Regions from separate parts of the Homo sapiens genome. Here region 1 is linked to region 2. Evidence: fine-mapped expression QTL. A gene starts in region 2. The other region holds a variant in brackets. All regions are shown on one strand. Distances are between the middles of the regions. Region 1 holds the start of SPATA3 (spermatogenesis associated 3). Region 2 holds the start of C2orf72 (chromosome 2 open reading frame 72).

What was found.
Region 1: its variant is fine-mapped to the expression of C2orf72 in testis (GTEx, PIP above 0.99).

The regions. Positions count from the first base shown.
Region 1 is chr2:230,991,841-231,003,887 of GRCh38, reverse strand. SPATA3 (spermatogenesis associated 3) reads right to left here and starts at 7,767. Exons shown (of 5, transcript NM_139073.5): 1 at 7,354-7,767; 2 at 3,351-3,522; 3 at 1,061-1,204. The coding sequence starts at 7,654. The coding sequence ends at 1,099. It overlaps SPATA3-AS1 (SPATA3 antisense RNA 1), which reads left to right and starts at 7,856. Exons shown (of 6, transcript NR_033879.1): 1 at 7,856-8,040; 2 at 8,503-8,611; 3 at 11,486-11,554; 4 at 11,913-12,047. RefSeq lists an enhancer at 7,723-8,256. The variant C/G (reference allele first, on the strand shown) is at 3,459.
Region 2 is chr2:231,031,817-231,044,271 of GRCh38, reverse strand. It overlaps C2orf72 (chromosome 2 open reading frame 72), which reads right to left and starts at 6,749. Exons shown (of 3, transcript NM_001144994.2): 1 at 6,073-6,749; 2 at 2,863-2,976. The coding sequence starts at 6,706.

The DNA.
Region 1 (12,047 bases), 40 kb after region 2:
TCTTCAAGCCTCACAATAACCCTACAAGGTAGGTTCTATCATTTCACTCCACTGGGAGAGAGGAACCTTGGGAAATAATATATTACGCCCACTGCAAAGGCAAGGAAAACAGACGATTATCCCCTTTTTGGGCTGGTGCATCCACTGCCCAACTCCTGTGAGTTGTGAATGTGCTGCTAATAGCTCAGAGCTGCCCCTCCTCTAGGGAAGCACCCTCAGCCCAAAGGGAGCTGCTCTTTCCACAAAGACATGCAGTCCCTACCCAACACTCAGAGCCAAAGCACTGACAAGGAGGAGCACCAGAGGGCAAGTCTCTCCCCTCTGCTGAGACTAACTCTGTGTCATCATTCTTGTTCCAGGGCTCCCACAGGGTCAAGCTGAGGTCTGGCCTCCTGCCTCTCAGCTCCTTCCCTTGCCTCTTCTTGCCTCCCTCACTCCCTCACTCCCTGAGAGCACCTCCTCAATAAACCTGTCCATTCAACCCCAGTCTCAGGCTCTGCTTCCAGGGATGAGGGAAGATGGCTGCATGAGCCATGCCCCTTGCCCTCAGGGGTCTTGCAGGACAGATGGGAGACAGGCCACAGGCAAACGACAGGATCATCCACAACACAGGAGGCACAGGTGGAGAGGACAGGGGTTGAGAAGATGGAAGACGTCATTGAAGTTGGGAAGATGGAGAAAGGTTTCATGGAAGAAGGGGGCTTTATGGGTGATGGACTGGTAGGACTGGGTAGGAGACAAGCTTTCCAGGCAGGGAGAAAGTTCCAAGAAAGGTCCGAGATGGGTAGAAACCTTTGCCCCCATCCCTCCCATTTCCTCTTGTCCAGGGTCCATGACCAGGGACACCATCCCGGGGCAGAGGAGGTGGGGGCTCTGTTTAGATGATTGTAATAATGAGTCTAGCGTCATCTGAGAGCATCAGGTCTTCCCTAGAGGGCCATGCCGGCTGACCCTGAGGCCAGGAGGGAGTCACTCCACTGGCAAGCTTCCCTTGAGAGGCCGGGGCTTGGTCCACCTGAAGAGACCACCTCCATTCGAAGGGACAGAGCGCTCAACATACCTGCCAGACTGTGGGCCTAGGGGCTTGTTCACAAGGATTCAGTGATGTAGTAGGCAGCTCCTAGAGCCCCCAGAGCCACAGCCACAGTTCCGAGGGCTTGGAGGACACGCGTTACGATGACTGGAGGGTTTTCTTGAAGATTTTCTGTAGAGCAAAGCAGAAGTGGGGGTGGTGGGAAGCTGGGCTTCAGTGCCTCTCTACGAACAGGAGAAAGTGGAAATTATGTGGCCCCCTCAGGATTGCAGGAATACCCATCTTCCCCCTCTCCAAACTCCTCTTAGGAGAGCATTTAATTCTTCCCATCCTTCCAACAAGTCCCTACTGAAAGACCCCTGAGGATCGGAGGGTGAGCTGGCCTGGGATGCTAGCTGCCCTGAACACTCAGAAGGGGACCAGGTTAGGAAGGTGGTCAAGTCTGCTGTGAGCCAGGCCTTGTGCTAAATACCTCACACCCAGTGTCTTCTTCCAGCCTCACAACAACCCTATGAGGTAAGTTCTATCACTTCACTCCATTGAGAGAAAGGAACTTGGGAAATAATATATTACACCCACACAAAGGCAAGGAAAACATGACTAAGGCAATAATTGTGAGGAGGGCATTCAAAAAATGCAATACCCGTTTTGATAAAAATCCTACAAAAATAGGGATTCTTGTTTAATGTGAATGTGGATTGAAAGCCAAGAGCCAACATTACACTCCATTGAGAAAAGCATGCCAGTGCTAAAATTGGAGCAGAATTAAAACTACATGTCTTGCCCTGGCCAGATATGGACCCTGTCTCTCCCTGCTCACTTTCCTGATTCTGAGCCTCACGCTTGCCTTTTCCTGCACCCAGATTGCTCCCGCTTTTCATCTTAAGCCAGAGAGGACTTCAAGATCCTTCTGGACTCGGCTCACATGCTGTTGACAGGAACCTTTCAGAGGTTCCTGTTGGAGCCTGTTCCTGTTGGAACCTTTCAGAGGTTCCTGTTGGAGCCTCTCCTAGAGGACACAAGGCTCTTTGCATCTTGCATCTTGGTTTCTAAATGCATGGGTCTTAGCTCTCCATGTCGACTGCAACAATTTTAGGGGTAAAGTTCCCTGTTCTGGTTTCCCTCACAGTGCCCCATGTCCTCTGCATAGTAAGTTTCCCTCAATAACACTTGCTGGTTTTAAAACGATATGAACCCATGGCACGATTTGGCCATGGATGGATGGAAGTACTAAGCGTGTGGGCAGGGTGTGGCTAACGGTGGCAGGCAGACCTTTCCTTGACGGAGCTTACTGGGTGGTGGAGTATTTTTGGCTCCAAGCGTGTTCTCCCCACACGCCCCGGTATCTATTTACTTATCTCCATGTGTAGGAGAGATGGAGTTTTTCAGCTCCAGAAAGGAGAGGGGATTGGGTAGGGAAGAGGCTGGGAAGAGGAACAGGACAAGGATGGGGGTTGGGGGGCCTCAGTTCCTGGGGTGGGGGTGTGAGGTCGCCAAGTGGAAGGGCCTCTTCCATTGAGATCTGTGAGGCCCTCAGGTGGGGCAGATGGCGACCCCTCTCCCAGCCCATGCATGTAACCTAGCAGCGCCCAAACGTGGGAACATCTCCAGTCTGTTCCCTGCATGGATGGGGTCTTCCTATGAGGGCGGTGGCAGCCATGACACTGCTCCTGGTGGCTTTTTGGGAAGAGGAAGGAAGGACAGATACTATGGGTGATGTCATGGGGGCCGCCACCAACAGACCAGCCTGGGGGCAGATGTTCCCTGTGGAGACCCCCAGAAAGAGCCCAGCACAGTCTGAAGGGGGCTGACGTCTTGCTATTGTGTGGAGGAGGCATATGAGTTACAAGTAGTTTTTTATCATTAAATTCTGGGCGACATTCGTAGGCAGATCAGGAACCTAAGGCCCCTGCCTATGACACAGGCCACTGAGGGCCCACGGAGGTGCATGGCCAAACAGTGTTTAAACACAAAGCTCCTGAGCGACTCTGTGAAGGGCTGAGGGGGAGAGTGTTCTGAGGAGGGGAGGGCATCTCTGGAGAAAAGAAAAAGGAAGCCCCTGAGGAGGAATCCCAGTGAGGAAGAAAACTGGCACCTCTCTGTACAGGCGGGGTGGGTACCCCGGGGGTGGGGCCGGTCAGAAAGGGCCCTGCCTGCCAACGTCCAGGAAGTGGGCAAAGCAAAGAGGGAAAGAAAGGCTTTCCTTCGGCCTGGGATTCCCAAGAGGAAGTGATACATGATTGCTAATAAGGTCTGGGGGCAGAGCCTGGCCCTGGGGACTGTGTGCCCCGAGGCTCCAGCCCCTCGCGCTTGGAACCTGTAGAAGGTGAGCAGGTTGGGGAGTCCTCTCCCTGGCGCCATCTGCCAGTCCCGAGGCAGAAGGACATCGAAGATGCGGCTATGGCATAGCCCCAGACGACGCCAG[C/G]AAGCGGAGCTGCAGGGGCAAGTGGCACAGGAGCAGGAATGCGGGCCGGCGCGAATCAGAGGCCCTGTGGGGACAGAAGGAGAGAGGTGAGGGAGGCACCTGCCCTGGGAGGCTGGGGCGGGGGAGTCTGGAACACAGTCTGAGAAGGCCCCCCACAACGGCAGCAGCTGCAGGATTACCAGGGCGAACGCTGGATTTTTTCCAAGGCATCATTGAGGATTTGGGACTGAACTACCTAAGGAAGGCAGTTCTCCCACAAAATGTTCTCTAACCAAACAGAAGAGAAGACTGACCGCATGGGAAAATGGCTGTTTTATACTGGTGCTACCTGGGAGTAGCAACAGCGACGACAACAACGATGATGATGATGGAGGTGGTGCTGATGGTGCCATGGCTTACACCTTCAGGATGCTTTGCACTTAGCATGCTCATCTCATTTAATTTCACAGTAATCCTGTAAAGGGGATACTGCTGGTCTTGTTTTACAAATAAGGAAACTGAGGCTCAGCTAATTTAAGGGATATGCCCTTTTGGGGAGTAGATTACAGAAGTTGGCTTTCTCAACTCAGGCTTTCTCACGTTTAATTCAGTGAAAATGGAATTTCAGGTGACTGCTCACCTCAGGAGAGGCTGCACTGACATTCCTGGAATTGGAGCTGCCACGTTCCATTGATCTAGAGCATTCTGATCCATCCAGAAGACAACCACAGCTCTAGTTTCCAGTCCCGATCCTATTTTCTGTTTCTGTCCTCCTCTGGTATGGATCCCAGCAGAATGTAGATGATGCCCTCTGTGGTTGGGCAAGATAATTTCTGGCTGGATTATTCCCTCCTGTTTCCTATCTGTAGCCCTGCGTCTTCTTGACAGAGCTACAGATTCTTCTGACCCTAAGCTGCATGAAACAGGTGGTCAACCTGGCAGATTCAATACACTTTCTGCTTAGACTTGCCCACGACACGTACTTTCCCGGAATGAGGAGAGGGGATTCTAAAGGCAAGACTTGTCTTTTTTTTTAATTACAAAAAAGTTTTTAAATTGAGATATCATTCCCAGGCAATAAAATTCACCCTTTTAGAGTGCTCAGTGGTTTTTAGTATATTCACAAAGTTTTGTGGCCATCACCACTAATTTCAGAACGTCTTCATTTCCCCAAAAAGAAACCCCATCTCCATGAGCAGTTACTCCCCACTCTCCCATTTCCCCCAGTCCCTGGCAATACATTTGCCTATTCTGAACATTTCATGTAAATAGAATCATTCGATGTGTGGGTTTCTGGGAGACTGGATTCTTTCACTTAGCCAAGTGTCTATAAGGTTCATCCAGGCTGTACCATGTATCAGGACACTATCTCTTTTTATTGCCAAATAGTATTTCACCATACTCATTGTACTGTGGTATTTCATACCACATTTTGTTTATCCATTCATCAGCTGATGGACATTTGGGTTGTTCCCACTTTTTGGCTATTACAAATGCTGCTGCTTTGAGCATTTGTGTACAAGTTTTGGTGTGCTTCTAATATGCTTAATAAGATGCTTCGAATTCTCTTGGATGTATACTGAGAAGTGGAATTGCTGGGTCATAAGGTAACTTCATGTTCCTCTGAGGAACCACCAGACTGTTTCCACAGCAGCTGCACCATTTTACATTCCCGCCTACAGTGTATGAGGATTCCAGCTTCTCTACATCCTCACCAACACTTGTTATTGTCCATCCTTCTGATTATACCCATCCTAGTGGAAGACTGGCATTTTCTTGAGCTACAATATTTCTGCACACAAAAAGGCTTGGATTTTAGAAAATGGCACGCTTTACTTGCAGGCCCTCATCCTTCATCTCCAACATTCCTTTCTACGCAGAGAATTCCTTTGGAAGAAGTATAGGGTGTCTGCTGTAACCACTGGCGAGCCACCACCATTTCTTGCTTTCTTGCTTTGCCTGTTCAATGGGCCAAATTCTTCTCTGAGTATGAGTCACATGTGTTCATTAAAAGACTTGGGAATGGAAAGTCTTGCTTTCTACCAGTACTGAAGATGCCAGTTCTGAAGATCATAACCCAGAAATGTTTCTCTCACTGGCTGATGATCACAATCTTTACAACATATAGTATGGTGCTCAAAATCAATATCATATGTCAAGAAAGGTTTGATTCCTGGCCATGGAAGGATCATTGGCATGGCATGCCTTATATTTAGCACTCTCATCTCCATCACTTATTTATTTTATGCCCACACAATCCCGGGGGGTAAACTGTGGCCCAGGGAGTGTGGCCTGTTCAAGGCTATGGAGTCGTGGGCACTGGCTCATGGCAGATCCAGGAGATGCTCGGACAGAGATGTTCTTCCTCTTGTGGAGACTCCTAGGCCTCTTGGAATGGAAAGGTCAGTGCTGTGGTTTAAAGTGAGGGTTCTGGAGTCAGAATAGAGTGGGTTTCCCTTCTCAGGGCTACCAGCGTCTGCTCAGGAGCAACCTGTTTGACTCCTATGAGCCTCAGTTTCCCCATCTATAAAATGGAGATAATATGGAAGAACTTTTATAGGATTATCACGTGTGAAAATTAAGACACCTGATCTGAATGCTAGGTACACAGTAAATGCTTAGTGATAATGTTAGTTTGCTATCACCATTATTGTTAGTAGTATAAACCAGCCCACCTCCTGAACTCCACTTGAATTCCCTCTACACAATCCAATGCTTATACAGACACTGTTTGGCTCCCAAGAAGACAGGGAACCACTTTTCCTGACAGCCATTCCATTTTCAGACAGAGCTAATTGTTGGGAAGTTTTTTATGTTGAGCCGAAGGCTTTCTGTCACTAATGTCTTCCATGGGTAAGATTGCTAATTTAGCAAATAAAAATATAGGATGCCCATGCAATACTGGGGACACACATACTAAAAATATTATTTGTTGTTTACTAAAATTAAAATTTAACTGAGAGTCTTGTATTTTGTCTGGCTATCCTATCCATGGGCCTGTATTTGTCTGTTTTCACACTGCTGATAAAGACATATCTGAGACTAGGCAATTTACAAAAGAAAGAGGTTTGTGGAACTTACAGTTCCACGTGGCTGGGGAGGCCTCACAATCATGGTGGAAGGTGAAAGGCACATCTCACATGGCGGCAGACAAGAGAAGAGAGTTTGTGCAGGGAAACTCCCTTTTTTAAAACCATTAGATCTCATGAAACTTATTCACTATCACGAGAACACCACGGAAAAGACCCTCCCCCGTGATTCAATCACTTCCCACTGGGTCCTTCCTACAACACCTGGGAATTCAAGAAGAGATTTGGGTGGGGACACAGCCAAACCACATCAGACCCTTAGATCTCTGAGGACAATAAGGAACAAGTCTATTCACATCTTCCACTTGACAGACAGACATCCTCCAATTCCTTCAATTGACTGTCATACACTAAATGGTCTCCCTGATCCTTCTCATCCTCCATCAACCCAGACTATCTTCCTTGGACTAGTTTGTCAGGCATCTTTTACAGCCCAAAAGGATAGCTTGATGAGGACAGAATAAAGCAGTATCATCACCTCCCTTATTCTAAACCATATACTTCTATAAATGCATCCTTGGTTTTTATTTTTTAGCAGTTGCATGGCACTGCTGATTCCTAGTGAGCAAGTATTACTATGGAACCAAGTTAAATGTTTATATGTATGTGTGGCTGTCTTCAGTGAGACTCAGGATGATGAGAAATGACAAAACCCAGGAATCCTGGTCTCTTGGGTAGAAACAAAAACAAAAACCTTCCCACTCTACAGCACAGCTCCAGGATACACGTTAACCATGCATCACTATCCTACAAGAACCAGCCTTTGGGATGACCCAGAACTCCATCAGCAGGAAGGCTGGAACTGCTGAAGCTAGAAGACAGCCCACCTGCTTTCCTGGATTGAGGGGCTGCCTTCACGTTAGCATCTGGAGATAAAAGGCAGCAAGAGGAGCGGCGGATTTCGGGTGCTGGAAGGGCTTGGAATGCTGGCTGCCGGGAGGTGGTTTCAAGGCTGGAATGCTGTGGTGTGGATTCAGGGCTAGGCTGCTGTGGTGTGGATTCAGGACTAGGCTGCTGTGGTGTGGATTCAGGGCTAGGCTGCTGAGAGGTGGAATTGGAGCTAGCATGCTGGGAGGTGGAGTCTCGGTGGCGTCTGGCCTCTGACCTTTTCTTCTTGACCTTCTTCATGGTAGATCCTCCCAACCTAAACGTGGACCTACATGGAGCTGCGTAATCTCCCGGCTCCCTCCTGGAGGGGCCGTTTGCCCTCTGCCCTAGGAGCCTGGCTTGGGCCTCCAGCTGGACCCAGGCCCCACAGAGAACAGTGACCCACACCTCCTGTGAGGTCATAAAAGCCAGGGTGGCTCCTATGGCAGGGCTTCAAGGGACAGTCTTCTCTGCAGACACCAGCCTGGTGTCCTCCTTCATCCCAGGCTGCCAGGCTAGGCAGGGGACAGCGGCTGCCCTGGTCCTCACAGCCCTGGCTACGGGGCTGGTGACAGCCAGATCCTCATGCTTCTGCGACCTGAGCGCTGCCTTCAGACACCTCTCTGCTGGCGTGTTCCTGGGTCCATGTGAGCTACCTGTTTTGCTCTAAGATACCCTGGATGTGACGCTCAGCTCTGTCACTGGCTTCCACATACCCCCTACTCCTACACCTCAAAAATCCATGTTCCCCACGCATTCATCTTCAGGTCAGCTTCCTGAAGATTTGGAGCTTCTTCGAAGGCTTTACCATGGCCCAGAGCCTGCTACCATCTCAGAGTAGCTTACCCCTTCCCCCAAAGCCTGCCCTCCCGCACTGTGGGAGGGGAGTTTGGGGGTTGACTTGACTTTTATAAGAACCTTTGCATTTGGCAGATAATTTTCCCTGAGAACATAACAGCTGTTCAGAAAACTAACATTTGTCTCAAACTCATGGCAATGGCAACCACAGACTATCTCCCAAACCCCAATTGGTTGGGTTAAACAGGTGACTGAATCTTTCTCTAGATTAATTAATTTAATGTGCTCATTAAATGTGATTTTTGTTTTAGGATGGAAGAAGGAAAAGTATTTTTAAAAGACAATCTGAAGCTCATACTGTGACTGCAACATAAAATGTGTTCACCTGAGGAGACTGCTTTCATCGCCAGTGTGTCACAGGTGGGTGAGTGTGGGACTGGCAAGCGCAGGAGCTCCTGCCCCAGCGGAAGGTTTAGAGCAGACCTATGCAGATAAAAAGGGCTTCGGTCACGCCTGTAATCCCAGCACTTTGGGAGGCTGAGGCGGGCAGATCACGAGGTCAGGAGATTGAGACCATCCTGGCTGACATGGTGAAACCCCGTCTCTACTAAAAATACAAAAAATTAGCCGGGCGTGGTGGTGGGTGCCTGTAGTCCCAGCTACTCGGCAGGAGAATGGCGTGAACCTTGGAGGTGGAGCTTTCAGTGAGCCGAGATCGTGCCACTGCACTCCAGCCTGGGCGACAGAGCGAGACTCTGTCTTAAAAAAAAATGGGGGGCTTTGGGCCACACAAAGCCAGACCCAACATGAACTCTGAAATGACAGGACATAGTTTAGGGCTTCTAGAGCCTAAAAATACCTTAATGATGACCTTTCCTCAGAACACTGAGGTTTAGCGAAATTAAGTTACTTTCCCAGGGTCACACAGCTGGCTGGGGGCATCGGAAGGACTAAATTCCAGTTTGGGGCTCATTATTTTCATGATCCCAGAAAACAATAGGGAGTCAGATAATTATACAGGCTTTGAAATAATGAATTAAAAAGTCCCCCAGTGGCCTGGTGCGGTGGCTCACGCCTATAATCCCAGCACTTTGGGAGGCTGAGGCGGGCAGATCATGAGGTCAAGAGATTGAGACCATCCTGGCCAACCAACATGGTGAAAACCTGTCTCTACTAAAAATACAAAAATTAGCTGGGCATGGTGGTGCACGCCTGTAGTCCCAGGTACTCAGGAGGCTGAGGCAGGAGAATCACTTGAACCTGTGAGGCGGAGGTTGTGGTGAGCCGAGATTGTGCCACTGCACTCCAGCCTGACGACAGAGTGAGACTCGTCTCAAAAAAAAAAAAAAGGTCCCTGAGCGAGAAGATTGAAGAAAACAAAGGCAGGAAGGATCAGAAGTGAAGGCAAGCTCAGCTCAAGAGTATTGGGTTGTGTTTGGTTGACCTTGGCCTAAGGAGGCTCTGGGAGCAAGTGAATCTGTATGAAGCTGGTAATTTCCTGAAGCCAAGAGCAATGGAACCCTTGAGGGGACTCCATTTAGAATCAGAGAGACTGGAAACCGAGGCCGGGAACCCTGTTGAGATCTAGCAGACAGCTCAGGAACTCCTAAGGCATTAATCTCTGCAAAGTTGGATTTTCAGGTACCAATGGGCTTCGGCCGAGGGCCTCAACCTGGTTTAAATCAGTGTTTTTCAACCTCAGCCCTGTTGACATTTTTGGGCTGAGTAATTCTTTGTTGTGGCGGGTCATCCTGTGTATTGTAGGAAGTTTACCAGATCCCTGGTCTTTACCCAGTCTTTACTCCCCCCTACCCCAGGACAACCCAAAATGTCTCCAGATATTGCTAAATGTCCCCTAGAGATGGGGTAGGAGTGTGTGTGTCCACATTGCCCCTGATTGTGCCATGTTGGTGTAAATGAATCAGATAGGAGCAGACACATATAGGTAGAACTTCCTGGTAGCAATGAAAGAAATATTCCATTTTACCAGAAGGAGCCAAACAGGGCACAGAGAATGAGTCTCTGTCTTCCTGTAGAAAGATGGAGGAAGCACAGAGGGCAGGCCGAGGGAGGAGTGGGGAATTTCTCTGTGGCAGCAGCAAAAATATGTGTGAATTCTTTAGTAAGAGTGGTCCCAAGAAGCAGAGAGAGGGCACCTGTGGAAAGAGGTTGTCCCAGAAGAATGAGGAAGAATGGTCCCTCAATAGCTCCTTGCTAGAACGTCTTCCCTGCAGCCCCCACCTTCTTCTTCTTCTTCTTTTTGTTTTTGTTTTCAGAGTCTCACTCTGTCTCCAGGAGTGCAGTGGCCCAATTTTGGCTCACTGCAACCTCCACCTCCCGGGTTCAACTGATTCTCCTGCCTCAGCCTCCCGAGTAGCTTACAGGCATGCTCCAGGCTCCTGAGTAGATTACAGACATGCGCCGCCATGCCTGACTAATTTTTATAGTTTTAGTGGAGACAGGGTTTCACTCTGTTGGCCAGGCTGGTCTCGAACTCCTGACCTCAAGTGATCTGCCTGCCTTGGCCTCCGTAAGTGTTGGGATTACAGGCATGAGCCACTGCGCCTGGCCCCACTGCTTTCTGTTTGAGCACCTGTTCCTATACAGGAAGCCTGGCTCTTCCATAATACAGCCACAGCCCACTGCCCAGTGCTTATCAGCCACTACTACTACCTGTGTCCAGCTCTAGCTAACCGTGAACATCAGAGATCTCATGAACAGGCTGAACATTCCTGCATTTTCAGAAGCCCTTCTCCTCTATCATCCCTCTCTGCACCTCTACCAAAGCATTTTCTGGTCAAGCCCTATCTCAAGTGGATAAATCTCTTCATAAAGCCTTTCTAAGCTGGGCACAGTGGCTCATGCCTGTAATCCCAGCACTTTGAGAGGCTGAGGCGGGCGGATCACCTGAGGTCAGGAGTTTGAGACCAGCCTGGCCAACATGGCAAAATCCTGTCTCTACTAAAAATATAAAAAAATCAGCTGGGCATGGTGGCACACGCCTGTGGTCCCAGCTACTCAGGAGGCTAAGGCAGGAGAATTGCTTGAAACCCGGGAAGTGGAGGTTGCAGTGAGCGGAGATCGCGCCACTGCACTCCAAGCCTGGGCCACAGAGCGAGACTCCATCTCAAAAAAAAAAAAAAAAAAAAAAAGCCTTTCTTGAGATCTCCAACTGGAAGCCATCCTTCCCTTGCTGCTGAGCTCCGGGGCACCTCTTTGTATGAGACTGGTCATATTCTGAACGGCATTAGAATTATTTCTGTCTCTGCCTTCCCTCTCATTCCCCAACCCCAGATGGTGGAAACCTCAGAAGGCCACAGTCCAGAGTAGGGGCTTAATGCAAGCTGCTGGAACTGAATAAAGGTAAAGTTAGGACAGAGAAAGCAGGAAGCTGCGACAGCAGGAAGCTGTGATGGGGGCAGGTGGGCATGTGGGATCAGGCACCTCCAAGGCTTCATCACCAAGGGGGTGTTTTCAAAAATGGACTGGGACTTCTCTGGCCTTGGCTGAGGATCACAGCTGGACTAGTCCATGGGCAAGGGAGTTTCCTAACTAGGGATGCCAGTCATGTGAAAATGCAGTAGACTAGGTAGGGGAAGGGAATTGGAAATTAGATAGTCAGAATAAGGTCTTGATGGGGTGAAAATTTCCTCCCAGAAGGTCTCTGATGGTTCTGGTTTCCTGGGCACCTAGAATAAGTGTGTCACCATTTGTCCTGAAGCTGACTTCTCTGAGCTGGATGGCACCCTGGACATCAACCAGCCCTTCACCTTCACGTCACACAGGAGGGACACTGGTCCATAGAGAGGATGCCTGCTCTGGTCACCAGCTGGAGAGTGGCAGACCTTGGGTACCT
Region 2 (12,455 bases):
GTGTAGCCTAAGTGTACTGCGTTTATATAGTCGACAGTAGTGCACAGCAATGTCCTAGGTCTTCCCATTCACTCACCACTCACTCGCTGACTCACCCAGAGCAACTTCCAGCCTTGAAAACTTCATTCATGGTAAGTGTCCTATGCAGATGTACCATTTTTTGATCTTTTATAGCATATTTTTACTGCACCTTTACTATGTTTAGGTATGTTGAGACACACAGCTACTTACCATTGTGTTACAGTTGCCCACAATATTCAGGACAGTAACCTGCTGTACAGGTTTGTAGCCTAGGAACGATAGGCTATGCCGCATAGCATAGGCATGTAGTAGGTTATACCATCCAGGTTTCTAAGTACACTCTATCGTGTTCACACAACAAAAATCCCCTAAAGATGTATTTTTCAGAATGTATATCCCTGTCATTAAGCAACTCATGATTGTATAAATGCATGTAATTATGATATCCTATATTTATCATATGCTATCAATGTGTGTACATAGTCCATAAATGCCATTTGCATTTTAATACATTCACTTCTATATGAGATTTGTACATACCACAGAGAGAGAAATTATCCAAGATTTATGTAAAATGGTTAATGATTCTGTTGCTTCATCTTTTCTCCTTTAGTTTCCAAGTATATCCAAAATGATGGTGGAGAGGTTGAAGTTAGCATTTTTGCAATTAAACATTTTAAATATCTACTGCATTTTGAAGATGATATAGAAGTGAGTTTATTAAATTTTAAAGAGCACAAGGAGAGATAGGTAAATAGAATGGCGTACCCCAAAATATAATTGTAGTTATCTCTGAATGATGGAATTAAGTGAATGATGTTTCACATTTGTTTTCTTTCTTTTTTTTTTTTGTACTTTTTTTTGAGTTTTCAAACATGACAGGCAGAATTCTAAGACAGCCCCCAAGATTCTGGCCCCTTATAAAGCCCTTCCTTGAGTCTGGATGGGCTCTGTGAATGTGATAGCTTAGTCACTCTGGGGAGTAGGTTGTCTCTCTGACAAATGCAATGGCTAGTGACTACCTTGACTCCTTAGGTTATGTGGACTCCCTCCTAGCAGACTGGAGAGCGGGGTTCTCCTGCTGATTGAAGGAGGATCTCTTGTGAGAGGGCTTGTGAGAGCAAGGAATGGCAGGGGCCTCTTGGAGCTGAGAGCAGCCCCAGCTGACAGCCAGCAAGAAGTCAGACACCTAATCAATGCCTTTGAAGCTGCTAAGCTTGTGATTATTTATTTATTTATTTATTTTGAGACGGAGTTTCACTCTTGTTGCCTAGGCTGGAGTGCAATGGCACAACCTTGGCTCACTGCAACCTCCACCTCCGGGGTCCAAGCAGTTCTTCTGCCTCAGCCTCCCAAGTAGCTGGGATTACAGGCATGTGCCACCACACCCGGCTAATTTTGTATTTTTAGTAGAGATAGAGTTTCACCATGTTGGTCAGGCTGGGCTTGAACTCCTGACCTCAGGTCATCTGCCCACCTTGGCCTCCCAAAGTGCTGGGATTACAGGCATGAGTCACCATGCCCAACCTACTTGCGATCATTTCTTATGCAGCAATGAAGACTGACACATCAACTAATGGTTTTCTTTCTTAAATGAGAGACACAATGAAAGTTAATTTTGAACCACCATCCATTGTTTCTGTAACAAAGCTATACTTCTCAGTGCACTTTGGGATGGGCTGTGTGCATTCAGCAGGCTACACCATGCTTCCGAGTACTGTAGCCACCCCCATCCATGGCGTCACTATCCGCAGTTTCAGTTACCTGCGGTACAGTCCAATAAGATATTTTCAGAGAGATACCTCATTCCTGTAACTTTTGTTATATATTGTTAAATGTCTTAACTGTGCCTAGTTTATAAATTAAGCTTTATCGTAGGTATATATGTACAGTAAAAAACACAGTGTATACGTAGGGCTTGGTGCTACCCATGGTTTTAGGCATCCACAGGTGTCTTAAAGCATCTCACGTGGATAAGGGGGGGATCAGTGCGCTTCCTATCTCTCTAACATCAGCATTGACATGGAGGGGTGTCTTCCCCTTCCCCTTCTCCCTCATTTCCATTTAGTGGCCTGATGATTCCACCTAGGAGTGGCTCCGGGTGAGTTTTCTCCCCTCCATTCCCACTGCCCAGGTCGGGCCCAGGCCGCCTGTTATCCCTCCTGGGACACGACAGCCTCCTCCTAGGTGGGCTCTGCCGAGGTGTCTCCCTCTCCTAGAGTCCATCTCTCTAAACACACCCCAATCTCTCTGCTCAGAAATCGCTCATGGCACACTACTCCTGAAGGCTGCACATCTGGGACACTGATTTGGTCCAAACTCTTCCCTTCAGCCTTGGCCCTCACTGGTTTCCTTCTGCACCTCACTCCCAGGGCCTCTCGAAGGTGGTCCCTTTTCTGAGCATGACATCATGCTGTCACTCCTTAGCTCAGTGCTCCTTTTCCAAAACTTCCCATTTCTGCCTACGAAAATCCCTCCATCCCCGGATCAAATATCACTTGCTCTAGGATACTCCCTGGACCCTCCAGGGAGACTTGCTGTGTTTGGTCCCATGCACGTCCCATGCACCCCACCATGCTCCTGGAGACACCTTTGTTACAGCCCTCCCCATACTGCCTTCATTAGGTGGAGACTCCTGGGGAAAGAGCCCAGCCTGACCGAGCCCATGTGCCCACTGCCTGGCATATGGGCACCTCACATTGCTCATCCCCACACCTGGCACATGGCAAGCACTCCATAGATGTTGGTCCACTCTGTCCCTAAGGTCCCCAAGTTCACGTGACCACTCCCATAATTCCATGCACCTGGCCCTCAGGATGCAGGAGGTCGGGGAGCACTCACCCTGAGCTGAGCTTCTGCAGGCAGCAACATCCTGGTTCTTCCTCCGGCTCCAGGGACCCCAGGAAAAGCAGGCTAGCAGTCCGGGGAGGCCTGGCCTCTCCCAGGCTCCTTCCACTAGGAAGAACACAAAACCTGAGTCAGAGGGTCACATGGTTCCCACTTCACAAGACTGAGAGATTTCGTTTAGCAAATCAAGTGCCCCAACGGTCAACTGCCCTAGTTTCAACTGTCTGATTAAAAACACAGAGTCTGATTTGCAAAAGTGGGTGGGTTTTTAAAACCGAACTTTAAAAATGATTGCTTTACTTTTATCTATGTTATCTCATTTAATTCTTACAAAAGCCCTGTGATGTAGGTACCATGTTGAGGAAATAAAGCAATGAAAATGACATGAAATTAATTACAATTACATAGCACCAAACAAAATACTCAAAGAGCTGCACGTTCCCTCTGATTTTAGTTCAAACTATTTCTTGGCAGGAATAGATACATTTTTTAGTAATCTATAAAGTCAACAGGAACTAGGTTGTTTATTTTATTTATTTATTTATTTTTAAAAGACTTCAGGCAACCAAAACAAGGAAAATCCTTGTTCATAATCTTTATTCAGGACCAATTTACTCTTAACCCGCACCCAAAGGTAAAGAGACTGTATCCTTAGTTTTTCAACCCAAAGGCAGCTGGATTAGGTACCACGAACTGGGTAAAAGGGCACTGCCAAAAGGCAAGCAACCTAGAATAAGAATTATCATCAGACGGTGAGGAAAGAAATTGGAAAACTTTAAAAAAACAGATCCAACCACTAGCGAAATCTTAGTGACATGAATCCATTTGGTGTGAAGATAATAGTTCTGCCCACTGCAAAAGCTGCAAAGAAATCAGTGGGCTATAAGTTATAATTCCACTCACGACCTTTAGTCATTTGCGAGAGGTTTAATTTTGTTCAGTATGTTTTTATAAAAGTAGGAAAGCGCTTAACATAGAGAACAATTCCCTTGCAAAGTGTTAAAATCTCAAAAGTATTAGTGTTTATTTAAAAGGAAGGGAGGATTCATTCACTCTGTCTGCATGCCAGGCAGGGTATCAGGAAATGGGACTGCAGATGGTGTTTAAACCCACAAGGGAACAAAATCATGTTCACAAGGGAACGAAATCATGTGGTAAGAGCTCAGAGAGCAAAGGGATAAAGGGTTCTGGGATTTCGCCAGTGAACTTGCAAGTGGGAGCAGGGAAGGTCAAGGGAGGCTTCCCGGAGGAGGAAGTCCAGTTCTGAATGCACAAATGGGATTGGCCAGGTGAGGAGGAGGGAGGAGAAAAGGCTCTTCAGGCTCAGGCAACAGCAATGTGTCTACAAAAAGCTTAGGAGGGACAGGGCGTGGTAGTTCATGCCTGTAATCCCAGCACTTTGGGAGGCCAAAGTGGGTGGATCACTTGAGGTCAGGAGTTCGAGACTAGCCTGGTCAATATGGCGAAACCCCGTCTCTACCAAAAAAACAAAAATTAGCTGGGTGTGGTGGCAGACGCCTGTAGTCCTAGCTACTTGGGAGGCTGAGGCAGAAGAATTGCTTGAGACTGGGAGGCAGAGGTTGCAGTGAGCAGAGATCGCATCATTGCACTCCAGCCTGGGCAACAAAGAGAGACTTCATCTAAAAAAAAAAAAAATGCATGCACTCATTAGGGTATAGAAAATGTGTGTGAATTCCCTTCTTTCTATTGGAGGCCTGGTCAGCAAAGGGGTTGAAACAAAAATCAGAACAATCACAGCCTCAACAAAAAAATGGATTGCACCCTAAGGGAGGAGGGTTAGGGCAGGCGCGCTCGCCCAGGCAGGCCAGGCTGGCAGGTGAATGTGACATTGGCAGCATCACAGGTGACAGGTCTCCTTGCTGGGACCCTCCGCCCCCCAACCAACGCCAATACTCCAGGAGACACACAATACAGCCACTTTCTTCATTATCTACTTAAGAGGAAGGGGCTGGAGGGCTTGAAGGGCTGCCCAGCTGGGCAGGGAGAGAAAGCTGGGAGCTGGAGAGTGCAAAGATCTCCCGGGTTTGCCAGATGCAGCTACTCTTTTTTTTTTTTTTTTTTAATACTTTAAGTTTTAGGGTACATGTGCACAACGTGCGGGTTTGTTACATATGTATACATATGCCATGTTAGTGTGCTGCACCCATTAACTCGTCATTTAGCATTAGGTATATCTCCTAATGCTATCCCTCCTCCCTCCCCCTACGCCACAACAGTCCCTGGTGTGTGATGTTCCCCTTCCTGTGTCCATGTGTTCTCATTATTCAATTCCCACCTACGAGTGAGAACATGCTGTGTTTGGTTTTTTGTCCTTGCGATAGCCAGATGCAGCTACTCTTAATGTGCATATTTTCATCCTAGAACATTGGAGAGTTCCTGTAAAGCCTTGTGTTCCAGGAGGAAGGAGATCCTGACCCTTCTGCTGATGGCAGCAGTCACGGGGGCTGGGAAAAGACCCTTAAATCCCTTCCACCTTTCAGGAGAATGTGGAGGGAAAAGGTGGCCTCAGCAGACCTGGGGGAGGCTGAGGGACACAGCAGTTGGGTGCACAGCCTTGGTGGGTGGCCAGAAATCAATAGAAAATGTACTCTTAGTCCCTCTCACCTCCCCACACGTCAAGTCCCGAGCACCCATTCCTTGCCCTCTTCCTAAAACCAGGCAGGGCTTCCAGGACGAGCCTCCACCGCGCTGGAGATGCCCCTCCGCCCCTCCTAGAGCTCCCGACGCATCTCTGGCTGCGCAGCGCCCTAGAATTTAGCTTCTGGCACCGCCAATCTCCTTAGCACCCATCCACCCCCTTGAAACTTTCCCATCCCAAGGCTTTCCCATTTCCTTCCCCACTCCTCTTCTCTCCCCACCCCCACCCACCCCGTAACTCCTAGATCTCGGCCTTGCCCGATTCATCCCTTCTCTCTACCCACTCCCTCTGCCTTCTACTCGGCCCCTCAGCTTTCCCACGCCCCCTAGGCATCTCCCGTGCACTCCGGACCCTTCCGGGACAGACTCGATCCGCTACGCACGGCCCGCTCTCCGCTAGCTGCGAGGCCTGGCTCTAGGCACCTCCCTGCTCTGAGCCTCAGTTTACCTCGGTGCTCAATAAGGGAATGGCCAAAGGGGTCCAACTTGGGGGACGTGCCCGAGCCACCGCCCGCCCGCGCCCAGCCGGGCCCCGCGCAGTCTCACCTGGTTGCCCGGCTCCGGCGGCTTGCAGGGCCCTGCAGGCGGCCGCCTGGACGGCCAGGCAGGAGGCCGGGAGGCCGGGGCAGTAGGCGGCCGCCTGCACGGGCCCCCCCGCCTGGCGGCCGAACACGGCGCGCAACAGCGCCTCCAGCAGCCGCAGCCCCGGCGCCACCGCGTCCTCTGGCCCGGCCTCGGCCACCAGCACCCCGACCAGCGCCGCCCCGGCCCGCCGCCGGCCGCGCACGTCCCGCAGCATCTCCCGCAGGCGGCGCCGCGGCTCCCGGGCGGCCAGCGACGACGCGCGGCACAGCACGAAGACCAGCGGCGAGCGGATGGCGCGCGCCGCCGCCGCCGCCGCCCCCGCCGCCCCAGCCGCCCTCGCCGCCCTCTGCGCCCCGCGCGCCGCCCCGGGCCCCGCGCCCTCTGCCGCCGCGCCGCCCGGCTTGGCCGCGCCTGGCTCCGGCGGGAACACCGCCCGTGCGAAGTCCCGCAGCAGCGCGCGGCTCTGTTCGCGCTCCCACAGCTCGCCCACCAGCAGCACCTGCCCGCGGCCCCCCGCCGCTTCCACCAACGCCTGGAAGGGCGGCTCGGCAGGGCGCGCAAGCCGGGCCGCCAGCGCCTCCAGCTCGCGCTCCATGCTGGCCGCCGCCCGCCCTCTGCGGCCGCCGCGGCCCGGGCGCACCCGCTGCCCGCCTCTCGGGGCGGTGGCGCCCCGGCACAGAGGACACGCCCCCGAGGGCCGAGCCCAGCCGGACCCCCGGGCCCCCGGGCGGGGCCTCTGTGTGCACGCGCCCCTGGGCGCAGCCCGCATCGCGGGCCCGGGTGGGAGGAAGAGGGCTTTCTCCTCAGCCCTCCAAGGGTGGCTCCTCCCGAAGTCCCTGCGCAGACGCGGGGAAACAGAGAGTCATTCATTCATTCATTTGTTCGTCCATCCCACACATACTTACTGCGCACCTACTATGTGCAGGCGCTGGGCAGCCGAGGTTGGGAAGACAGACAATTATCCCCTCACTAGATAAGATCGTTTGGAGACCTGGAGCAGAGTCCTGCACAGTTTGGGGTCTTGCCGAGGTGGGGTGGGAGGTAGGGGGGTAGGGGGCGGAGGGCGCAGAAGTGGGTAGGAAGGTGAGATAAAAGAGAACACGCAGGGGTTATTTCTGCCACCCAGCTTTCCTTTTGGGCTTCAACATTTAGCAAAAACTGACCGAGGGTCCATTATTTCCACAAATACTTATTGTACCACCCCAGGCGCTGGGGTTGAAACCCAGACTGTTTCCGTAAAGCAGAAAGTCTAGGGGGCCAGATGCAGGACACGGATGGTGCTCTGATCTGCGTGGGGAGCAAGGGGCCAGCCAGGTCAGAAGCAGGAATGCATTTCCCTTCCTTCTAAGGATCTAGGTCAGCCTTGTCCAATAGAACATTCTGTGATGATGGAAAACTTTTTTATTGTCTGCACCATATGTGACTATTATTGAGTACCTGAAATCTGGCGAGTGCAACTGAAGAACTGAGTATTACATTTCACGTAATTTGTAATGAAATGTAAAATTAAAGCAGAAAGTGACAAGATGATAATGTACTTAAAGGGCTGGCACCTTTCTCTGAATAGTACCCTAAAGACGCCGCAGAAGCAAGAGGGGAGTTGGTAAGGACTCTGAGAAACCAATGTAAAACCAGGGAAGGCCTGTCGCCTCCTCCCCTCAGTGCCATAGAAGGGGGATAGGCTGAGTGAACGCTATACACTTGTGCTCTTTTCTTTGCTTGCATTGGCCTGAGTAGACCATTTCTCAACCCCATCTCCCCAGCACTGCTGGGAGGCAGAAAACAGCTGTGCTAGCCAGGGATGGCATATCAGGCTGGGGCTAGCAGCACAGAAAAACCAGACCCGGCAGCCTCTTCTTCCCACTTCATGGGTCAGGAATTCCAACCACGAGACCTGCCTCATGAAAGAGGATTGGCCAGGGGAGAGTGCCCAGAAGCTCCCTGAGTGGGGTGTCTGGTGTGTGTGAGGGTGGCACATGGGGAGTGGCTACATTCACATTTGATGCCAGAGGCAAGTCCCATCACACCCCCATTCCTTAAGCTCCCAGGTGGGATATATAGGAAGAGCCTAGGTTTTAGTCTCTTCCAGGTGTACCTATCGCCAACCAAAGTAGCTGATATCTAGGGAAACATGAATTCACTGGGAAAAATAATTAGACTTCTGGGGCCGGGCGCTGTGGCTTGTGTCTGTAATCCCAGCACTTTGGGAGGCCAAGGCAGGTGGATCACCTGAGGTCGGGGATTGGAGGCCAGCCTGACCAACATGGAGAAACCCAGTCTCTACTAAAAATACAAAATTAGCCAGGCATGGTGGTGCATGCCTGTAGTCCCAGCTACTTGGGAGGCTAAGGCAGGAGAATGGCTTGAACCCAGGAGGTGGAGGTTTTGGTGAGCTGAGATCGTGCCATTGCACTCCAGCCTGGGCATCAAGAGCGAAACTCTGTCTCAAAAAATAAATAAATGAATAAAATAAAATAAAAAATAAAAAACAGTTAGGCTTCTGGAAAGTATAAAACAAAGCAGGTTTAATGGATATATGAATTAAGATTCATTTCTTAATAACACAGACAACACTAATAACAATGAAAATTTCTTTTTCTCTTTTGTAGACGTTTGGGGATGGACAGTTTATGGCTGAAATAGTATAATAGTTCTGCTTTACTAGGTGTTTGAAGACTCAGATTTCATACCAAGTCACTATTGCCCTCTGACATCTTCATAATCCAAATTGGCTGCTAAAGCTTGGGCCATCACACCTGTATTCCCAGAAGCTGGGTAGTAGAAGGACTGAGGAAGGAACAAAAATCTGGTTGACTTCAGATTTCTTAGCAACAACATTGGGTTTAAGAAAAAATGGAAAAATTGTTTTAAAGTATCAAAGAAAAATAACTTTGACCCTAGATTTGGATTTCTAGCTAAATTATCAGGTATATAAAGAATCAGAAGGCGTATCACATATAGCCCCTCTTTGAAAACACTATTGGAGGAAGTGCCCTATCAAAAAGGGAACTAAATCTGGCTGGGCATGGTGGCTCACTCCTGTTACCCCAGCACTTTGTAGACTGAGGCTGGCAGATCATCTGAAGTCAGGAGTTCAAGACCAGCCTGGCCAAAATGGTGAAACCCCGTCTCCAATAAAAATACAAAAATTAGCTGGGCATGGTGGTGTGTGCCTGTAATCCCAGCTACTTGGGAGGCTGAGGCAGGAGACTCGCTTGAACCCAGGAGACGGAGGTTGCGGTGAGCCAAGATTATACCAGTGTACTCCAGCCTGGGTGACAGAGTGAGACTATCTTAAAAAAAAAAAAAAAAAAAGAGGAACTAAGAGTGCTCAATAATAGCAAGTAAGAGGGATTAAATCACTTGTCTAAATAACAGTGCAAGGCCATGCCAGCAAAGCACAGCCTAAGTGGGTATAATAAACTGGGAGGGTGGGTGGCAGAGCCAGGGTGAAACCTACAAGTTGACCAGAAAGGGAATTAACCCCATCCAGGTCACCTCTGAGGAAGAGAGAAAGACAAGTTCTAGAGAAGCACTGTCAGGTATACTGGGATTTTTAGCACATTCTTACAAGGCTTGTCTAAAACCAACATGCTCTGCCTCCTGAACTATATATTCTCAGCCTCTAAATCTCCACAACTAATTACAAATTTCCATAGGCGGGATGCGGGATGGATCAGAGGGGGGTGGAATGTTAAACGAAGGTTGGAGTCCAGGGCCAGTAAAGTTTATCTTTATCTGTGTTATTTACACAGCAAAGGTTCTGGTATTAAATTAACAGGAAACTGCAAAGATCTTTTTTTTTTTTTTAAAAAAAGGCAAGATGCCAAGAATATTTCTTCCTCCTCTCCCACCGCACCTTAGAAAAACATCATAAAATTAATGGACTTCTTCTTTCTCTGGTGTTCAATGAAGATATAAAGTAAACTGGGATTTTTGAAATACTTTACCTCTTCATGTTCATTTAAACAGAATTTGGTGGGAATCAAGTGATAAGAGACTGGTGTGGTGGCTCACACCTGTAATCCCGGTACTTTGGGAAACTGAGGTGGAAGGATTTCTTGAGCCCAGGAGTTTTAGACCAGCCTGGGCATCATAGCGAGACCCCATCCCTAAATAAACAAACAAACAAAAATCAAACAGCTAGTTGGGTATGGCAGTGTGTATCTAGTCACAGTTACTCCTTGGGAGGTTGGGGTGGGTGGATGGCTTGAGCCCGAGAGGTCGAGGCTGCAGTGAGCCGTGATTGTGCCACTGCACTCCAGCCTGGGTGAGAGATCAAGGACTTGTCTCAAAAAAAAAAAAAAAAAAAAAAAAGTGACCAGAAAGTGTTGGTTTGGAAAACAAGGAGTAATCTCCCTCTAGTTGCTTGCCAGCTCCTTTTCCCTCTTTACTCACACTCTGTCACCCTATTCTCCTCTCCTTCTTTCTTCCTTTCCCCGCTTCCCCTCTCCCCACCTCCCCCTTTCTCTCTTCTTTCCTTTCCTTCCTCTCTTCTCTCCCTGTACTTTTCCGCTTTTTCCCTAAGATGTTTGATTTGGGGGCTAAAAGGAAGGCTGGACCTGGGGAGACTTTCTGGCTTCCTGGGGAGCTGGGTGGAGGGAGGAAGATCTTTAACATGAGGAAGACCTCAGAGGGAAAGGAAATTGGAGGAGCCCCCAGGACCCACGGAGGAAAGAGGCTGAGGTGGGAAGAGGGGCTGGAAACTTGAAACTGGGTCTAACAAGTGCTGGGTGCCCCTGAGGTGGAGCAGGCCTGCTCGCTGGTGTGCTGGGACTTCGTTTCCTCCTCTGCCAGGCCCAGGCTGGTTCCCATGAGGGCACCAGGAATGCAGATCTCTGTGCCAGCTGGTGTTCTTATGGGGGTCAAATATCTCAATTTCGCCTGAACTTTAGGGGTCTGGTGAAGGTTTGTTAACCCACTTATGCAGGAGGTTGCAATTTTTTGAATTGCAGACATGTGTGAAAAATCAGACCTTGGCAATGACCTTGAGCAGCAGGAAATAAATAACTCCCACATGCTTAGCGTTCCAATAATGGAACACTAGGAATAAATGGGATTGAAGAAGCCTGCAGGAAATGCTGACGGGCAGAGACCAGGCTTCAGTGCCTATCATGCTCCTGCTGAGCCCTGGACTAGTCAGTGGTGCCAGGAGGAGGGGCAGGCAGGCCCCCAGGACACACCTGTACTGGCTGAGGGCATCACAGTGGGGGCAGTCCTCCGTCAGCCAACACCTGGCACATAACTGTGGGGAGAGTGTCTACACCTGTCACCTTGGTGGCCACAGCTGCAAGGTGACTTCGTGGGGATCTGTGAGCATCTGAGGCCCCAGTAGGGGTGAGGAGGAGAACAGCAGCTCATTTGTGCAGCAAGGACATATGGTGACTTCGAAGCCACTCAATTTGGGCCTCCTTTCAAATCTACTGGGCCAGATCAAGTTAGAGCTTCAGTGTAAGTCTCCCAAGGTCCCCTCCTGGGAGAATGGCACCAGCCAAAATTGGCCAGGAAGAAACCATGGTCTCTAAGAGTTGAATGGGACCCTGGTTGGCCTTTCCCTCCCCCAGGACAGGGCTGCACCAACTGCACCCAAGCTGGCACCTCAACTGTCAGGCCCATTGAGGTTAAAGTGGAGCAAAGAGCAGTTATTACTGGAGGCAACCTTATTCCTCCCCCAAGTCTCAGAGCAGGTGCCCTTTTATAGACTATCAAATACAATGTGAGCTGTATCTGTGGGGTGGGCATGAGGGCCGGTGCCCACCACAGACGCCCTGCCCCTGTACCTGTATGTCTCATTCTGTTCACTTTCTGCAGCTCCTCGGTCCCCGGCTGATGAAAAAATAGGAAGTGTGCAAGTGTTGGGGCAATGGGCAGTGGGTGACTTCATGATCATCGTTCATGAGGTGCCTGATATAGAACAAGGTGACCATTAAAATAATCTTATGATAACCTTAGTTGCCCAAGCCAGCTCCTGGCCAGTGCCTCTCTTTCCCAGAGGGGTGGATCAAGAACCCGGTCAGGAAGATGGGCTCAGTGAGTGCATGGAAACATGAGGTTCCTCTGCACCAGATCTTGTCAGAGCTCTGTGACTGACCCTGACGTGACTCTGCAGGACAGGGAGCTTCTGTGATCACTGGCTAGAGGATGTTCAGCTTACCAATTTCAGGTTGCACTGGACAAAGATGATGGCGGTGTTGCTAATGACACTAAGGTGGCACCACCTCACCACTTTAGAGAAACTCTCGCTTCACCACTTTAGAGAAGCCTCTTATCAGTGGTAGCGGCAGATGGACAGGCAGTGGTTGCCAGTAGAGCTTTCTGCAATGAAGAAATTGTTCTAAATCTGT